Regions from separate parts of the Homo sapiens genome. Here region 2 is linked to region 1. A link means that fine-mapping ties the variant in region 1 to the expression of a gene that starts in the linked region. Tissue or cell type: stomach. Region 1 holds a variant in brackets; the other region holds the start of a gene. All regions are shown on one strand. Distances are between the middles of the regions.

The links. PIP is the estimated chance that this variant, and not a neighbour inherited with it, causes the effect.
Region 2: SRGAP3-AS4 starts here. The variant in region 1 is fine-mapped to the expression of SRGAP3-AS4 in stomach (GTEx, PIP 0.99).

What each region holds. Positions count from the first base shown.
Region 1 is chr3:8,370,226-8,378,331 of GRCh38, reverse strand. All of the region lies in intron 3 of LMCD1-AS1 (LMCD1 antisense RNA 1), which reads left to right. Among named protein-coding and RNA genes, the nearest start is that of LMCD1-AS1, 130 kb to the left of the region's middle. RefSeq lists enhancers at 5,515-6,045, 6,046-6,578. The variant G/A (reference allele first, on the strand shown) is at 4,164.
Region 2 is chr3:9,245,837-9,253,942 of GRCh38, reverse strand. SRGAP3-AS4 (SRGAP3 antisense RNA 4) reads right to left here and starts at 4,187. Exons shown (of 3, transcript NR_146969.1): 1 at 4,122-4,187. SRGAP3 (SLIT-ROBO Rho GTPase activating protein 3) reads left to right here and starts at 4,297. Exons shown (of 22, transcript NM_014850.4): 1 at 4,297-5,058. The coding sequence starts at 4,992. RefSeq lists an enhancer at 4,279-4,518.

The sequences.
Region 1 (8,106 bases):
ACTAGGCCAGTCTCTCTTTTCACATTTTTCTGCCTGCTTATATTCTGCCACACTGGCAGCTGATTAGATTGTGCCCACCCAGATTAAGGGTGGATCTGCCTTCTCCAGTCCCTGACTCAAATGTTAATCTCTTTTGATAACACCCTCACAGACACCCAGGATCAATACTTGGTATCCTTCAATCCAATCAAGTTGACACTCAGTATTAACTGTCACAATGCTGCAACCACAAAAGTGAGCAATTCCAGCAGACACCATAGAGCCCATGAGCTTAAAATATTTTCTTTTTTTTAAATTATACTTTAAGTTCTGGGGTACACGTACAGAACGTGCAGTTTTCTTACATAGGTATACACATGCCATGGTAGTTTCCTGCACCCATCAACCCATCACCTACATTAGGTATTTCTCCTAATGCTATCCCTCGCCCTGCCCCCACCCCCTGACAGGCCCCAGTGTGTTATGTTCCCCTCCCTGTGTCCATGTGTTCTCATTGTTCAACTCCCACTTATGAGTGAGAACATGCGGTGTTTGATTTTCTGTTCTTGTGTTAGTTTGCTGAGAATGATGGTTTCTAGCTTCATCCATGTCCCTGCAAAGGACATGAACTCATCCTTTTTTATGGCTGCATAGTATGCTGTGGCATATATGTGCCACATTTTCTTTATCCAGTCTATCATTGATGGACATTTGGGTTGGTTCCAAGTCTTTGCTATTGTGAATAGTACCACAATAAACATACATGTGCATGTGTCTTTATAGTAGAATGATTTATAATCCTTTGGGTATATACCCAGCAATGGGATTGCTGGGTCAAATGGTATTTCTAGTTCTAGATCCTTGAGGAATTGCCCACTGTCTTCCACAATGGTTGAACTAATTTACACTCCCAATGTTTTTACACAACAGTGTAAAAGCATTCCTATTTCTCCACATCCTCTCCAGCATCTGTTGTTTCCTGACTTTTTAATGATCACCATTCTAACTGGTGTGAGATGGTATCTCATTGTGGTTTTGATTTGCATTTCTCTAATGACCAGTGATGATCAGCATTTTCTTATATGTTTTTTGGCTGCATGAATGTCTTCTTTTGAGAAGTATCTGTTCATGTATTTTGCCCACTTTTTGATGGGGTTGTTTTTTTTTTCCTTGTAAATTTGTTTAAGTTCTTTGTAGATTCTGGGTATTAGCCCTTTGCCAGATGGATAGATTGCAAAAATTTTCTCCCATTCTGTAGGTTGCCTGTACACTCTGATGATAGTTTCTTTTGCTGTACAGAAGATCTTTAGTTTAATTAGATCCCATCTGTCAATTTTGGCTTTTGTTGCCATTGCTTTTCGTGTTTTGGACATGAAGTCTTTGCCCATGGCTATGTCCTGAATGGTATCGCCTAGGTTTTCTTCTAGGACTTTTATGGTTTTAGGTCTTATGTTTAAGTCTTTAATCCATCTTGTGTTAATTTTTGTATAAGGTGTGAGGAAGGGATCCACTTTCAGTTTTCTGCATGTGGCTAGCCAGTTTTTCCAGCAGCATTTATTAAATAGGGAATCCTTTCCCCATTGCTTGTTTGTGTCAGGTTTGTCAAAGATCAGAGGGTTGTAAATGTGTGGTGTTATTTCTGAGGCCTCTGTTCTGTTCCATTGGTCTATATATCTGTTTTGGTATCAGTACCATGCTGTTTTGGTTACTGAAGCCTTGTAGTATTGTTTGAAGTCAGGTAGCATGATGGCTCCAGCTTTGCTCTTTTTGCTTAGGATTGTCTTGGCTATGCGGGCTCTTTTTTATTTGATTTGATTTGATGTGAAGCTTAAAGTAGTTTTTTTCCAATTCTGTGAAAAGAGTCAATGGTAGCTTGATGGGGATAGCTTTGGATCTATAAATTACTTTGGGCATTATGGCCATTTTCATGATATTGATTCTTCCTATTCATGAGCGTGGAATGTTTTTCCATTTGTGTCCTCTGTTATTTCCTTGATCAGTGGTTTGTAGTTCTCTTTGAAGAGGTCCTTCACATCCCTTGTAAGTTGTATTCCTGGTATTTTATTCTCTTAGCAGCAATTGTGAATGGGAGTTCACTCATGATTTGGCTCTCTGTTTGTCTGTTATTTGTATATAGGAACGCTTGTGATTTTTCCACATTTATTTTGTATCCTGAGACTGCTGAAGTTGCTTATCAGTTAAGAAGATTTGGGGCTGAGATGATGAGGTTTTCTAAATATGCAATCATGTCATCTGCAAACAGAGACAATTTGACTTCCTCTCTTCCTATTTGAATACCCTTTATTTCTTTCTCTTGTCTGATTGCCCTGGCCAGGACTTCCAATGCTGTGTTGAACAGGAGTGGTGAGAGAGGGCATCCTTGTCTTACGCCGGTTTTCAAAGGGAATGCTTCCAATTTTTTGCCCATTCAGTGTTACATTAGCTGTGGATTTGTCATAAATAGCTTATTATTTTGAGATATGTTCCATTGATACCTAGTTTATTGAGAGTTTTTAGCATGAAGTCGTGTTGAATTTTGTCGAAAGCCTTTTCTGCATCTATTGAGATAATCATGTGGTTTTTGTCATTGGTTCTGTTTATGTGATGGATTACATTTATTGATTTGCATATGTTGAACCAGCCTTGCATCCCAGGGGTGAAGCCAACTTGATCATGGTGGATAAGCTTTTTGATGTGCTGCTGGATTCGGTTTTCCAGTATTTTATTGAGGATTTTTGCATCGATGTTCATCAGGGATATTGGCCTGAAATTTTCTTTTTTTGTTGTGTCTCTGCCAGGTTTTGGTATCAGGATGATGCTGGCCTCATAAAATGAGTTAGAGAGGATTCCCTCTTTTTCTATTGCTTGGAATAGTTTTAGAAGAAATGATACCAGCAACTCCTTGTAGCTCTGGTAGAATTCGGCTGTGAATCCGTCTGTTCCTGGACTTTTTTTGGTTGGTAGGCTATTAACTACTGCCTCAATTTCAGAACTTGTTACTGGTCTATTCAGGGATTTGACTTCTTCCTGGTTTAGACTTGAGAGAGTGTATTTTCCCAGGAATTTATCAATTTCTTCTAGATTTTCTAGTTTATTTGCTTAGAGGTGTTTATAGTATTCTCTGATGGTAGTTTGTATTTCTGCGGGATCAGTAGTGATATCCCCTATATTATTTTTTATTGCATCTATTTGATTCTTCTCTCTTTTCTTCTTTATTAGTCTGGCTAGCAGTCTATGTATTTTGTAGATCTTTAAAAAAAAGCTCCTGTATTCATTGATTTTTTTAAGGGTTTTTCTTGTCTCTATCTCCTTCAGTTCTGCTCTGATCTTTGTTATTTTTTGTCTTCTGCTAGCTTTTGAATTTGTTTCCTCTTGCTTCTCTAGTTCGTTTAATTTTGATGTTAAGATGTCGATTTTAGATCTTTCCTGCTTTCTCTTGTGGGCATTTAATGCAATAAATGTCCCTCTACACACGGCTTTAAATATGTCCCAGAGATTCTGGTAGCCTTTGTTCTCATTGGTTTCAAAGAACATCTTTATTTCTGTCTTCATTTTGTTATTTACCAGTAGTCATTCAGGAGCAAGTTGTTTAGTTCCCATGTAGTTGTGTGGTTTTGAATGAGTTTCTTAATCCTGAGTTCTAATTTAATTATACTGTGGTCTGAGAGACCGTTTGTTATGATTTCCATTCTTTTGCATTTGCTAAGGAGTGTTTTACTTCCATTTATGTGGTCAATTTTAGAATAAGTGTGATGAAGTGCTGAGAAGAATGTATATTCTGTTGATTTGGGTGGAGAGTTCTGTAGATGTCTATTAGGTCTGCCTGGTCTAGAGCTGAGTTCACGTCCTGAATATCCTTGTTAATTTTCTGTCTCGTTGATCTGTCTAATATTGACAGTGGGGGGTTAAACTCTTCCACTATTATTGTGTGGGAGTTTAAGTCTCTTTGTAGGTCTCTAAGAACTTGCTTTATGAATCTGGGTGCTCCTGTTTTGGGTGCATTTATATTTAGGATAGTTAGCTCTTATTGTTGCATTGATCCCTTTCCCATTATGTAATGGCCTTCTTTGTCTGTTTTGATCTTTGTTGGTTTAAAGTCTGTTTTATCAGAGATTAGGATTGCAACTCCTGCTTTTTTTCTGCTTTCCATTTGCTTGGTAAACCTTCCTCCATCCCTGTATTTT[G/A]AGCCTATGTGTGTCTTTGCACGAGAGATGGGTCTCCTGAATACAGCACACTGATGGATCTTGACTCTTTATCCAATTTGCCAGGCTATATCTTTTAATTGGGGCATTTAGCCCATTTACGTTTAAGGTTATTATTGTTATGTGTGAATTTGATCCTGCCATTATGATGCTAGCTGGTTATTTTGCCCATTAGTTGATGCAGTTTCTTCATAGTGCCGATGGTCTTTACAATTTGGTATGTTTTTGCAGTGGCTGGTACTGGTTGCTTCTTTCCATATTTAGTGCTTCCTTCAGGAGCTCTTGTAAGGCAGGCCTGGTGGTGACAAAATCTCTCAGCATTTGGTTGTCTGTAAAGGATTTTATTTTTCCTTTGCTTATGAAGCTTAATTTGGCTGGTTATGAAATTCTGGGTTGAAAATTCTTTTCTTTAAGAATGTTGAATGTTAGCCCCCACTCTTTTCTGGCTTGTAGGGTTTCTGCAGAGAGATCCACTGTTAGCCTGATGGGCTTCCCTTTGTGGGTAGCTCAACCTTTTTCTCTGGCTGCCCTTAACATGTTTTCCTTCATTTCACCCTTGGTGAATCTGATGATTATGTGTCTTGGCGTTGCTCTTCTCAAGGAGTATCTTTGAGGTGTTCTCTGTATTTCCTGAATTTGAATGTTGGCCTGCCTTGCTAGGTTGGGGAAGTTCTCCTGGATAATATCCTGAAGAGTGTTTTCCAACTTGGTTCCATTCTCCCCATCACTTTCAGGTACACCAATCAAATGTAGATTTGGTCTTTTCACATAGTCCCATATTTCTTGGAGGCTTTGTTTGTTCCTTTTATTCTTTTTTCTCTAATCTTGTCTTTTCACTTTATTTCATTAAGTTGATCTTCAATCTCTGATATCCTTTTTTCTGCTTGATCAATTCAGCTATTGTTACTTGTGTATGCTTCACAAGTTCTCGTGCTGTGTTTTTCAGCTCCATTAGGTCATTTATGTTCTTCTCTAAATGGTTATTCTGGTTAGCAATTTGTCTAACCTTTTTTCAAGGTTCTTACCTTCCTTGCATTGGGTTAGAACATGCTCCTTTAGCTTGGAGGAGTTTGTTGCTACCCACCTTCTGAATCCTACTTCTGTCAATTCATCAAACTCATTCTCCATGCAGTTTTGTTCCCTTGCTGGTGAGGAGTTGTGATCCTTTGGAGGAGAAGAGGCGTTCTGGTTTTTGGAATTTTCAGCCTTTTTGAGCTGGTTTCTCCCCGTCTTTGTGGATTTATCTACCTTTGGTCTTTGATGTTGGTGACCTTTGGGTGGGGGTCTCTGAGTGGATGTGCTCTTCCTTTCTGTTTGTTAGTTTTCCTTCTAACTGTCAGGCCTCTCTGCTGCAGGTCTGCTGGAGTTTGCTGGAGGTCCACTCCAGACCCTATTTGCCTGGGTATCACCAGCAGAGGCTGCAGAACAACAAAGATTGCTCCCTGTTCTTTCCTCTGGAAGCTTCCTCCCAGAGGGGCACCTCTCAGATGCCAGCCAGAGCTCTCCTGTATGAGGTGTCTGTCAGCCCCTACTGGGAGGTGTCTTCCAGTCATGATACACGGGCTTCAGGGGCCCACTTCAGGAGGCAGTCTGACCCTTAGCAGAGCTCGAACACTATGCTGGGAGGTCTGCTGTTCTCTTCAGAGCCGTCAGGCAAGGACGTTTAAGTGTGCTGAAGCTGCACCCACAGCTGCCCCTTCCCCCTGGTGCTCTGTCCCAGGGAGATAGGAATTTTATCTATAAGTCCCTGACTCGGGCTGCTGCCTTTTTTTCAGAGATGCCCTGCCCAGAGAGGAGAAATCTGGCAGTCTGGCCCCAGCAGCCTTGCTGAGCTGCCATGGGCTCCACCCAGTTCAAACTTCCCTGCAGCTTTATTTACACTGTGAGGGGAAAACCGCGAACTAAAGCCTCAGCAATGGCGGACACCCCTCCCCCCACCAAGCTCCTGCAGCTAGTTCGGTGTCTACCCAAAAGGCTGCCCAGTTTTGTGCTGGAAACCCAGGGCCCTGGTGGTGTAGGCACTGGAGGGGATCTCCTGGTCTGTGAGTTGAGAAAACCATGGGAAAAGCCCAGTTATCTTGGCTGGAGTGCACAGTACTGTCCCTAATGGCTTCCCTTGGCTGGGAGAGGGAGTTCCCAACCCCTTGTGCTTCCTCGGTGAGGTGATGCCCCACCCTGCTTCGGCTCTCCCTCCTTGGGCTGCACCCGCTGTCCAACCAGTCCCAAAGAGATAAACTAGGTACCTCAGTTGGAAATGCAGGAATCACCCACCTTCTGCATCAATCTCGCTGGGAGCCGCATACTGGAGCTGTTCTTATTCGGCCTTCTTGCCAGCAGTCCTTAAAATACTTTCTAACTGGCCCTTGACAGAAAAAGCTTGTTGGCTCTTAATTTAGATCCACAACATATTTGGTTGAAGTTGGATTTTTATATTATCAAATGGACTTTTCACTCCCTAGTGGAAGTCTTTCCTTCTTTCCACAAACATTCATTTAGCAGCTACTATGTGCTAGGCATTGGTGATACACAGAAGAGAAATATGGCTTGCATCCTTCAGGATTTCACAGTTTGGTAGCATTGCCCTCAACTTGCATGGGCTTCCCCATACCAGCAGAGCCATGGGTAAGCTAACTCAACAAACACTTCCTGAATAGAACCTAAAATGTGCCAGATGTTATGTCAGGGATAAGAGACTTATCAATAAACAAGCTCTTGTCTCAGCTCTCAAGGGATTCCTAGTCTTGAAGAGTGGCCACACAGAGAGGTGAGTCACTGACACCATGATCAGCCAACACCATGACATACAGTGAGTACTCACAGATATGGCTGGATGACAGAAGTGCTGTGAGAACCCAGAGGGGTCAGAAAAATACCATTTTTATTTTGGCTCATGAAATATGACTAAGATAGAAGTAGCAAAAAAATCCTGATCTTCATGTTATCTGTAAGGAGACTGTGAAACCACCCCTTTCTTTTTCTTGGCAAGCCTCGCCACATACCCGGCTATGAGGAATGTGAACACTGGTCATGGTGCTCATTAAATTAGTCATCTTGATAATTACAGGATCTCAGAAATAACTACTAATCAGCCTGAAGAGAGCGCTTCTCTCAGGATTCACTGAAAATGCATCTAAGATAAGGTTGTTAACTCTGCATATATGTTTAAAGGAAGTTATATATGTTTTTTAAAAGTTATATATTTCCTTAAGGGCTCTTACTAACCTAATATGGTATCAGAATGGCAGTTCAGTATTCCTCCCCTACTGCTTTAAAGCTCTATGTCTTGGGAGCAGATGGTAAGGTATTTGAAGTCTCTATCCATAGAGGAATTTTTTCCCTCTCTCAGTAGACTGTTGTGAAACAGCAGGTATGAGAGGACATTTGTCAGGTGGCTGCAGTTACAAAATAAAAGTACTAACAAAGTCAGCTTATTAGAAAAAAGACAGCCAGGCATGAAGTGGTTTATGACAATCCAATAATTAACCAGTGGCCAAAGCCTGTGCTTTTCACATTTGAGTGATGAATAAGAACCTTCCGCATGCAGTAGTAAATCCCAAGTTGAAATATAAATATTACTTGCTTTATTAAGAGGTTTGATCTCCCAGGCTGTTGATATTGCTAATATTTTATTTTGGTTTTATATCTTGGTGTTTTCACTGATTTGATTTCAAATAACCAAACTGGTTATTTTATTTGCTTTTAATTGACTACATGACCCCATTACACCACTGGTTTTCTCTTTGTAGACTCTCCCATTTCTTTTTTTTTTCTTTTTTAAATCTAGAAATCTAGAATTAACTAAGAGTTTAGGAGAACGGTTCTGCATTTTGCCTGACTGGAACAACTGAGGAAGTGAGTAGGTTGGAACATGACTTATTTGAGATTTCTACTTCGAATTTCTTTTTCTGAAGGTCTCTGGGTTGGG
Region 2 (8,106 bases), 880 kb before region 1:
CTTGAGGTTATAAAACAACTGTACCATCAAAACCTCTGCTTATCCACGTATTTCCTTACCAATGAAACAGGTATTGAAAACAGCCCTACTTGCCATTCCGTCCCCTCCCAGGGTTATTGTGAGGACCACATACGACAAATGATATGAAAGAGCCTTACAAAATATAAAGCAATATATACACATTAGGCATGTTGTCATCATCACTATTAATTCTATTAAAATCTGCCATCAACTAGCTGAGTTCTGCTTGTTGCTTTCATTTTGCAGAGCAGGGCTTGAAGGGCAGAATTATTCACTGAGCTGCCCAAGGATGTATTTGCTGGTAGCAACGTGGAGAATGTTACAAAATTAGTCATCTCGGCGAGGGGGAGGTGTTCATATTCGACCAGAAAAATAAAAGTACTTTCAACCAAAAACTATTCTGGCCACTTTTCCTTCAGATGAAGCCTTTTTTCTTTCTACCAGGAAAAGAAACCGGTTCAGTGAGTTTTGCATTGTTTAGCTGTTATTGTAATTTATGCCTCACTAGTGGTCACTTGTGACATGTTTTCCTTATATTTTTAACCCCAAATTCTTTTTTTAAATGGAAAACTTTACGTTGAACTCCGTATTGAAACAATGTAATTATAGGGAATGAAAAAATGGGTTATTACTTGATAGCAATTATTCCTATGCTGATTCCTCCGGGATAGAATCGTGCACTGTTTAAGTCCTTGGGCTCCGCTATGAGCCATACCTGGGCTTCAGTGCAATTAAGTTACTAGCTAGCTTTGTGATCTTGGGTAACTTGCTTCACTGCTCTTGGCCTCCGTTTACCCAACTTCAAAACAAGGATGATTTACATCACTGGACTCATGGGGCTGTAGCAAAAAATCAGTGATAAAATCTACATAGAGTGCTTGGCCCTGTGCTTGTGTGCAGGGAGAACTTGGTAAATACTAGCTATCAGTATAATTTAGGAAAATCTAAAAGAATTCAGGAGATGAGCCCCAAGGAAATGGAATAAACACTTCCAGGGGCTTTTCTGGTCCTTAGTGGGTGGCATAGATCAAATCACATGGTAGAGGCCCTCCCCTCACACCTACCACATTTATTTGGAGACAAATCTGGTTTCTGTTACTACCATGTGAAGGGTAAACATTGGGAATAGCAGTTGGTTCTCAGACAGCAAGGAAAAAGTGGGCTCACAGAGGAGGAGTCACAGGAGGGCAGCGGGAGGGCTGGGGTGGGCTGTGGGGAGGACTGGAAGGGTGAGGACCTGGTGCTGGGGGCCTGCCCAGGTCACACCCACATCTTCTTGGGGATAGAAGATTCCAGATGATGTGGGTTTATTGTGTGTGGTGATGGATTTTTCAGGGGACACAGACCTTTTCCTCTTTTTTTTCCTCTCTTCCTTTTCCCAATCTGGGTATCTGTGGAGACCAAGCTCTAGTCCTAGGTCTGGCTTGGCTGGGCCCTGTATTAGTCCATTTTGCATTGCTGTAAAGGAATACCTGGGGCTGGGTAATTAAAGAAAAAAGTTTTATTTGGTTGGGTGTGGTGGCTCACTCTGCAATCCCAGTACTTCGGGAGGCTGAGGTGGGAGAATTGCTTGAGACCAGCCTGCCCAACATGGTGAGACCCCCATCTTGAGAAAAAAAAAAGTTTTATTTGGCTCATGGTTCTGCAGGCTATACCAGCATAACACCAGCATCTGCTTGGCTTCTGATGAGGCCTCAGGAAGCTTCCAATCATGGTGGAAGGTGCAGGCATATCACATGGTGAGTGAGGAAGCAAGGAAGAGGAGCGAGGTCCCAGACTCTTCATCAACCAGATCTCTTGTGAACCCATTACCGTGGGGTGGACACCAAGCCATTCCTGAGGGATCCATCCCCATGATCCAAACACTGCCCACCAGATCCCACCTCCAACGTTGAAGAACACATTTCCACAGCTCTAAAAAAGAAATTATGTCTGTGAGACTTCTGCTCTATGCCAGGCACTTTAAATCCATGATCGTGTTGGATCCTGTGCCATGGGTGGATCACTACCCTATGACAGATGAGGAAACCAAGACTCAGAGAAGGTGTATTCCTCCATGAGCCCCACACACAGCTGGTGCACAGCAGAGCCAGAAGGTAAACCACCATCTGACTTACTCCAAAACCCAGCCTCTGCCAGGTGTCAGCTCAGAGCGCTATACCATCTTTGGCCTTGGTTTTGTATGGCTTTTTGTGACATTTTTGTGACATTTCCATGGCTCAGCACCCTACACATAGGTCTCCTAGAACTATTTGTGGATTTAAAATTTTAATAATGGTGAAAATAGCTGACATTTACTGAGTTCCTGCCACCAGTGGGCACACAAGCAGGTTGAGCCACTTGCTCAAGTTCTCATGAGCTCAAGGCTCGTGGCAGAGCCAGGAGAGGATCCAGTCTGTCGTACTCCAAGGTGTATGGTTTTAACTTTCATTTTTCTTGAAGAATCTAGACTTGCAGCAGGGATGTTAATCTCTGTGCCCATCTTTCTCAGGTAACGTGGGGCTTTTGTGGGTTTGAACTAGTTAGAAGAGGACAGCAAAGGGCCTGAACATGTCCAGGGGAGGCGTGAGGCAGTGGGGTGATGGCAAGGGCTGCGGGCCAGTGGCATCTATTTCTGAACTGGTGACCTCCTGCCTCCGGGTACAAGGCTATAATAAGCCCCATGATTCACCAGTTGGACTTCTCCCTGTCGTTGCTCCAAGCAGGTCTTGTGCTTTGCCACCTGTGGGCCCCAGCTCATGCTGTGTGCTCCAGGAGAACATCCTGCCCCGCCTCACTCCCTTTGCCATACTTGCCTGGGGACGCCCACTGCAGCTGCCATGTCCTCTAGGAAGCCTTGATGGACTAGCATGGATAACCTATTCATTTCTGAGTCCAAACAGAATCATTTATTATAGACTCAGAAAAAGGCAAATGGAAGACTATACCTATTTTGAGAAATTTGGGAACATTTATCTCAGGGGACAGTCAGGGGCCAATACACATTAGTGACAATCTTAGCATATGAAATTCCAGTGATCAGCGACTCTTTAGTGCTTGACTCAGTTTTTACAGAATGAATCTTATTCTACCTTAATTCCACATGAAATGGGTTTGGTCTCCCTTGTAGAATGCAGGAGACTTTGAGCCTGGGTTGGAAGGCTGGTGACCTTGGGTAAGTCACTTCCCATATCTGAGCCTCTGCTCCTTTGTCTGTGAAAGAGTGGTGCTTATACCTATGTTGTTAGGTTGTTGGGGGATATAAAAGGGTAATAACAGTTGCTACTGTTTATTGAGTGCTTGCTATGCACCAGAGACTGTGCTAAGCTTAGCTTTGCATTTTTCTTTGATCTTTTCAAGAGCTCCTCTCATTCCCGATGTTCCTTACCCTGCAATATTTTTTCCCATAGCACTTTACATTTTGTATGATATTATATAATATACTTACTGTGCTTATTTTTGGTCTTCCTCTCCCAGGGCCTCTTGCCTCGTACAACTCCAGGGGGCACCATTCACAATGCTTTCTACTCCAGGGGTGCTTTTTACTAAGAATATTAGCATGAATGGTGGAAACTGCTGGAGTTGTGTGATGTGGAGCCCCGGGAGCTTCAGAAGGTCAGGGATTTTTGTGTGTGCCAGTTCTGATCATTGCTGTATCCCTGTACCCAGAACGGTGCTAGACCTATAGTAAGCATTCAGTAAATATCTGTTGAAAGAATGAATAACATAGCCTCCAAAGAGAGCTGATTTTACTATCTAGGAAACTGAGGCTCAGTCTGACTTATGAATTTGCCCAGAGCCCCACAAGCCAATGACCCACCCAGCTGTTCTGCCTCCAGTGTGCCTGCTCTGCGTGGCTTTGCTAAGCTGCATGCCTTTAACTCCTCGCATCGTCTCTGCCACCAAGTAACTGCTCAACAAATATTGATGCTTTTCCCTACATGGGTCAGGCCCTCTGCTAGACTATCCCAGTAGAGTGACAAACCATCATATAGCTGTTGATTCCAGAAACTGAATTAAATTGCACAGTGCAAAAAAAGGGAGGATCTTAAGTTTTTGGAAGAAAAATCCCTAACCCAAGTGCTAATGTTTGGAGTTTGCAGAAGCCTCTCAAGACTTACCAACCCGATTACTTTTCCTGCTGCCTTCCCTTTTGTGAGCGTTTCTTCCCCTTTTTGCTTGCAGTGAGTTCTGCTCTCCTGTAGGCTACAATGTGTCAGTTGTTATAAAATCCGGGAGGCGGAGTCTAGTGACGTGAGCAGTGGGGGAGAGCTCAGCCAGCCCTGCAGGGCGAGCAGTCCAGCCTTGTGTTCACCGGAGCTTAAGCGTTGCAGCAGGAAAACTTCCATCTCGCTCTCCTGGCTTTGATCCTCACTGGACATCAGACCAGAGGCACCGAAGGGAGGGAGGATGCGAGATGACCGGCCCTTTGGCAACCTGACCATCGACTTAGCAGAGCCTTCAAAAGCAAGCCAGGGGCTGGCTGCACGACCAAAGAGGCGCCGCGCCTCTCGTGGATGTGTGTGTGTGAGTGATCCAGCGAGTGTGTGTGCGTGTGAGGGTGTGTGTGTGTATGCCTGTGTGCACAGCACAACTGTGTGCGTGTCCCGGTGAGTGTGCCTGTGCATGCGTGAGTGTGTGTACGTGTGCATGTGTGTGTGAGTGCGCTTGGTTATTACTATTATTATTATTTTTGGAAGAAAAATCTTTGAAAATCTGGGGCAGGTTACTGTGCTCCTAGGGTGATTCTTCTTTTGCAAGAGGAGCTGACCAGGGCAAGCTACTAGAGCCATTTCTCGGCAAGTAAAGAGATTTTTCCTTCCAGAAGGAGAAGGATTTTTCTCCCTGCTCTGCAGCCAAGTGAAAGAGATTAGTCCCTAAACCTGTGAAATCGACCAGAGCTGTGTGATTACCAGGGCTTGAGAGAGGACTCGAAAAGAAAAGGAGAAATAAATCAAACAGCCTGTCAGTTCCTTTGGCCACGTCAGAAGATGTCATCTCAAACTAAGTTCAAGAAAGACAAAGAGATCATTGCTGAATATGAAGCCCAAATAAAAGGTGAGATGCGGGCTGGGAGAGTTTTCCTTCTCCTCCCCTTTCGTTTTTCTCTTGTTCTGGTTCCCATCCCCCGCTGCCCCCCGTTTTCCTCTCTGCCATTATGAAATGTTATGCATCAATAATCTTTTTGTGAGGAGTAACAGTGGCAGCCGCACAAGTCCGGACTGGTTTCAACTGCAGATAGCGCTGGGGCTGGGAGTGTGGATTATGGAATGGGCAGCAGTCTCTGCATTGCAGGTGTGTGAGGAGGATCCTATGCCTGACTTTAGGAGTGTCGCTGATACCCCATCATCTTGGCGGTGACATGTCACTCTAAGGCCATTTTGATAGTCACTACCTCCACCCCTTCCCTGCCATGGTAAAAGCCCTTTAATATTGGGGTATTTTTTTACCATCTGCTCTTTTTTTCCTCCCCCTTTTTGGTTTCTGTTGGTGGTGGTGGTTTTGCCTCCGCCTCTTTCTCTGGGCCGGAATTCACATGCATGTGCACAGCGAGGCAGCATCCCTGGGCGGCACTTCTTTGTCGGTGTCTCTGGGCTGGCCTGGGTTGCCATGGATTAACTGTTATGGGGCATATTGATCCAGACTAATGCAGGCATTTGGGCATAAAAAGGGAGCTTGGTGCAGAAAATGTATTATCTCGCAGTGTGCAGCCCAATCACTCTGTGCCCTGGCGTTTAGGTTCATCAGCTTTCATTCAAAGCCAACACCTCGGCATGCCGTTTGGGCTGGTCAGCGCTGCCTGGCTTCCGGGGTTCCAGGAGAAGCCTGCCGGGAGGGCGAGATGACCTCTGGCTGCTGGTTGCACCTTCTGTGCCACCGGGTGTATACTTCTTTCAGAAGCCGCTCCCTAAATCCACGCTAGCCAGGCGAAATAGGAAAGGGAACACAATTGCATGGCTAAATGCGGGCTTGCCGCATCCTCATTCAGGCCAGACTGGGGCTTCTCCCACCCCTACACGTTCTAGGCTCAGCTTTGGCAAGGAAAATCTAAAAGCTCCATCCAGCAGGCTCCTCCTTTCTCTGAGGATGTGCCCTGTGGGAAGCCTGGGCTCGTGCCTCTTGGCGTCCGCTTTCTTTCTGGTCATGGTTCTCCTTGCTGCGACACAGGGTGTGTTGTGGCCTCTCCTAGAAAGAGTAAAGACAAAATGCATCTTCAGCGGACCTTGAGGCCTATCTTTGAGGTTATGCACAGGCTGTTGAGCAAGTTGGGTATTTGGGGCTCAAGCAACCTGAGGTTGCCACACCTGCTTCTGGGCGCTGCTGCAACTGAAGACCCAATGACCCAGGGAGCTGGGTGGCCTCCTTAAAAGCAGCGGGAAGGCTGGGCACCGCAGCTGCCATACACGCTTCAGATGCTTGGGAAACTTTGGGAGTGGAGCAGCCACGGGGGGAGGGATCTGTTTTTTTTCCAGTCTCACCAACAGTCTTTTTGCCTTTTAGTCCTGGTCAAAAGCCCAGCGTGCTCATCACCTCTGGGCATATCCTAGGGCAAGAGGAGCAGAAAACCCTGCTCTTCCCTGGTCTCCTGTCTTTGGTTTTTCAGTTCAATGTGGAAAACAGTGACTTACGATGTCTCAGCCTTGCTGAAAATTTAGAAATAAGCGCTTTATTGGTCAGAGATTTTAATTCACCCAACTGCTCAATACAAAAGCCTAGTTTCAATCTTTGAATAGACTCTTTTTAGGGAGTTTATGTTTTATAAAATGAATTTGGCCAATTATTATTATTTTATAAAAATTAAGGTTGCCATGAAAATGCCTTGAGAGAGAAGGGGATGTTGAGTTTTGGACAGTTCAGGTTTTATGATATTTTCTTGGTAGGAAATGTGCTTATCTCATTTTGGAAGGATTGCTACTACTGGGCCAGTGAACTTTTCTTCAGGGCCAGTTAGGCATTAATTGCCCTGGCTGATCCTTTTGCTTTTTACCTTTCATCTTTTATTTTAACAACTAAGCAGCGAGTACCCTGAGTTTTATCAGAAATACACCAATTACCAGGCATTCATCAGGAAATGTGTCCAAATGATCTTGTCTCTTCCAAATACTAAATTTCCTTGCATTCTGGCTAAAGGAGTTACATCTTATTCCTTTAGAATTGACACCCACAAGGTCAGGTCAGGATATGGCTGTCCCTGAAACCCTCTGGAATCTTTTCTTTTAAAATTCTGTGTGTTAATCACCATCATAATTATTGATGTGTGTCTAGGGCCCTGCATTTTCTATGGCTAACTCCCAGACATCACTTACTCTTGGCCCACACAATGTACAGTAGGGTTAGTGTGAACTCAGTTTCAGAGACAAGGAAACTGAGGCCCAGTTAATGTTAAATGACTTGCCCAAGGTCACAAGGCCGATTTTCTCCCAGGCTTGTGTTCCCTGACACATTGTTTGCCCGAAGCTGCCCCTTGAAGGATTGATGTCAGCAGCAGATGGCAGTTTTGTGGGGGGACTGGCAGCCTCTTGATGGAGTTCCATTGTTTACCCTCTTACTTTCATCCCGTTGCCTTTGTTGCATGCCTCTGAAGAACATTTGACCAGTCACCAAAAACAGTGCCCGAGGCCAATTACCTTTCTCCCTGGGAATCATCTGGCCAGTGGGATGCAAAAAGTCCACCTAGTCAGACAGATTTTGTGCTTTGTGAATTTTGTGAAGGGAACTTTTGATTTTTAAAAACAGTGCTGAGTTCTTTGTTGACTTGTTCCCTTTTATGTCTTTTTCAAGAATTTATAGACCTAACACAAAGGAATGTTTTAGAACAGTATTTTTTCTATTGTAAAATAGAAGGATTCATGCCTTCTCTTGCCTCATCAGATACTTGAAGCCTTTTGATTATGAAGCAGTAGTAAACCATATGCTTGCACATTTCTAGTGATGGGGAACTCACTACCTCCCAAGCCCACGTAGTCTATCATCTTTGGACAGCTCTGGCTCTTGTAAGCATTTTTTCTTTTTTCTTTTGTGACAGAGTCTCTCTGTGTCGTCCAGGCTGGAATGTAGTGATGTCATCTTGACTCACTGCAATCTCCGCCTCTTGGGTTCAAGAGA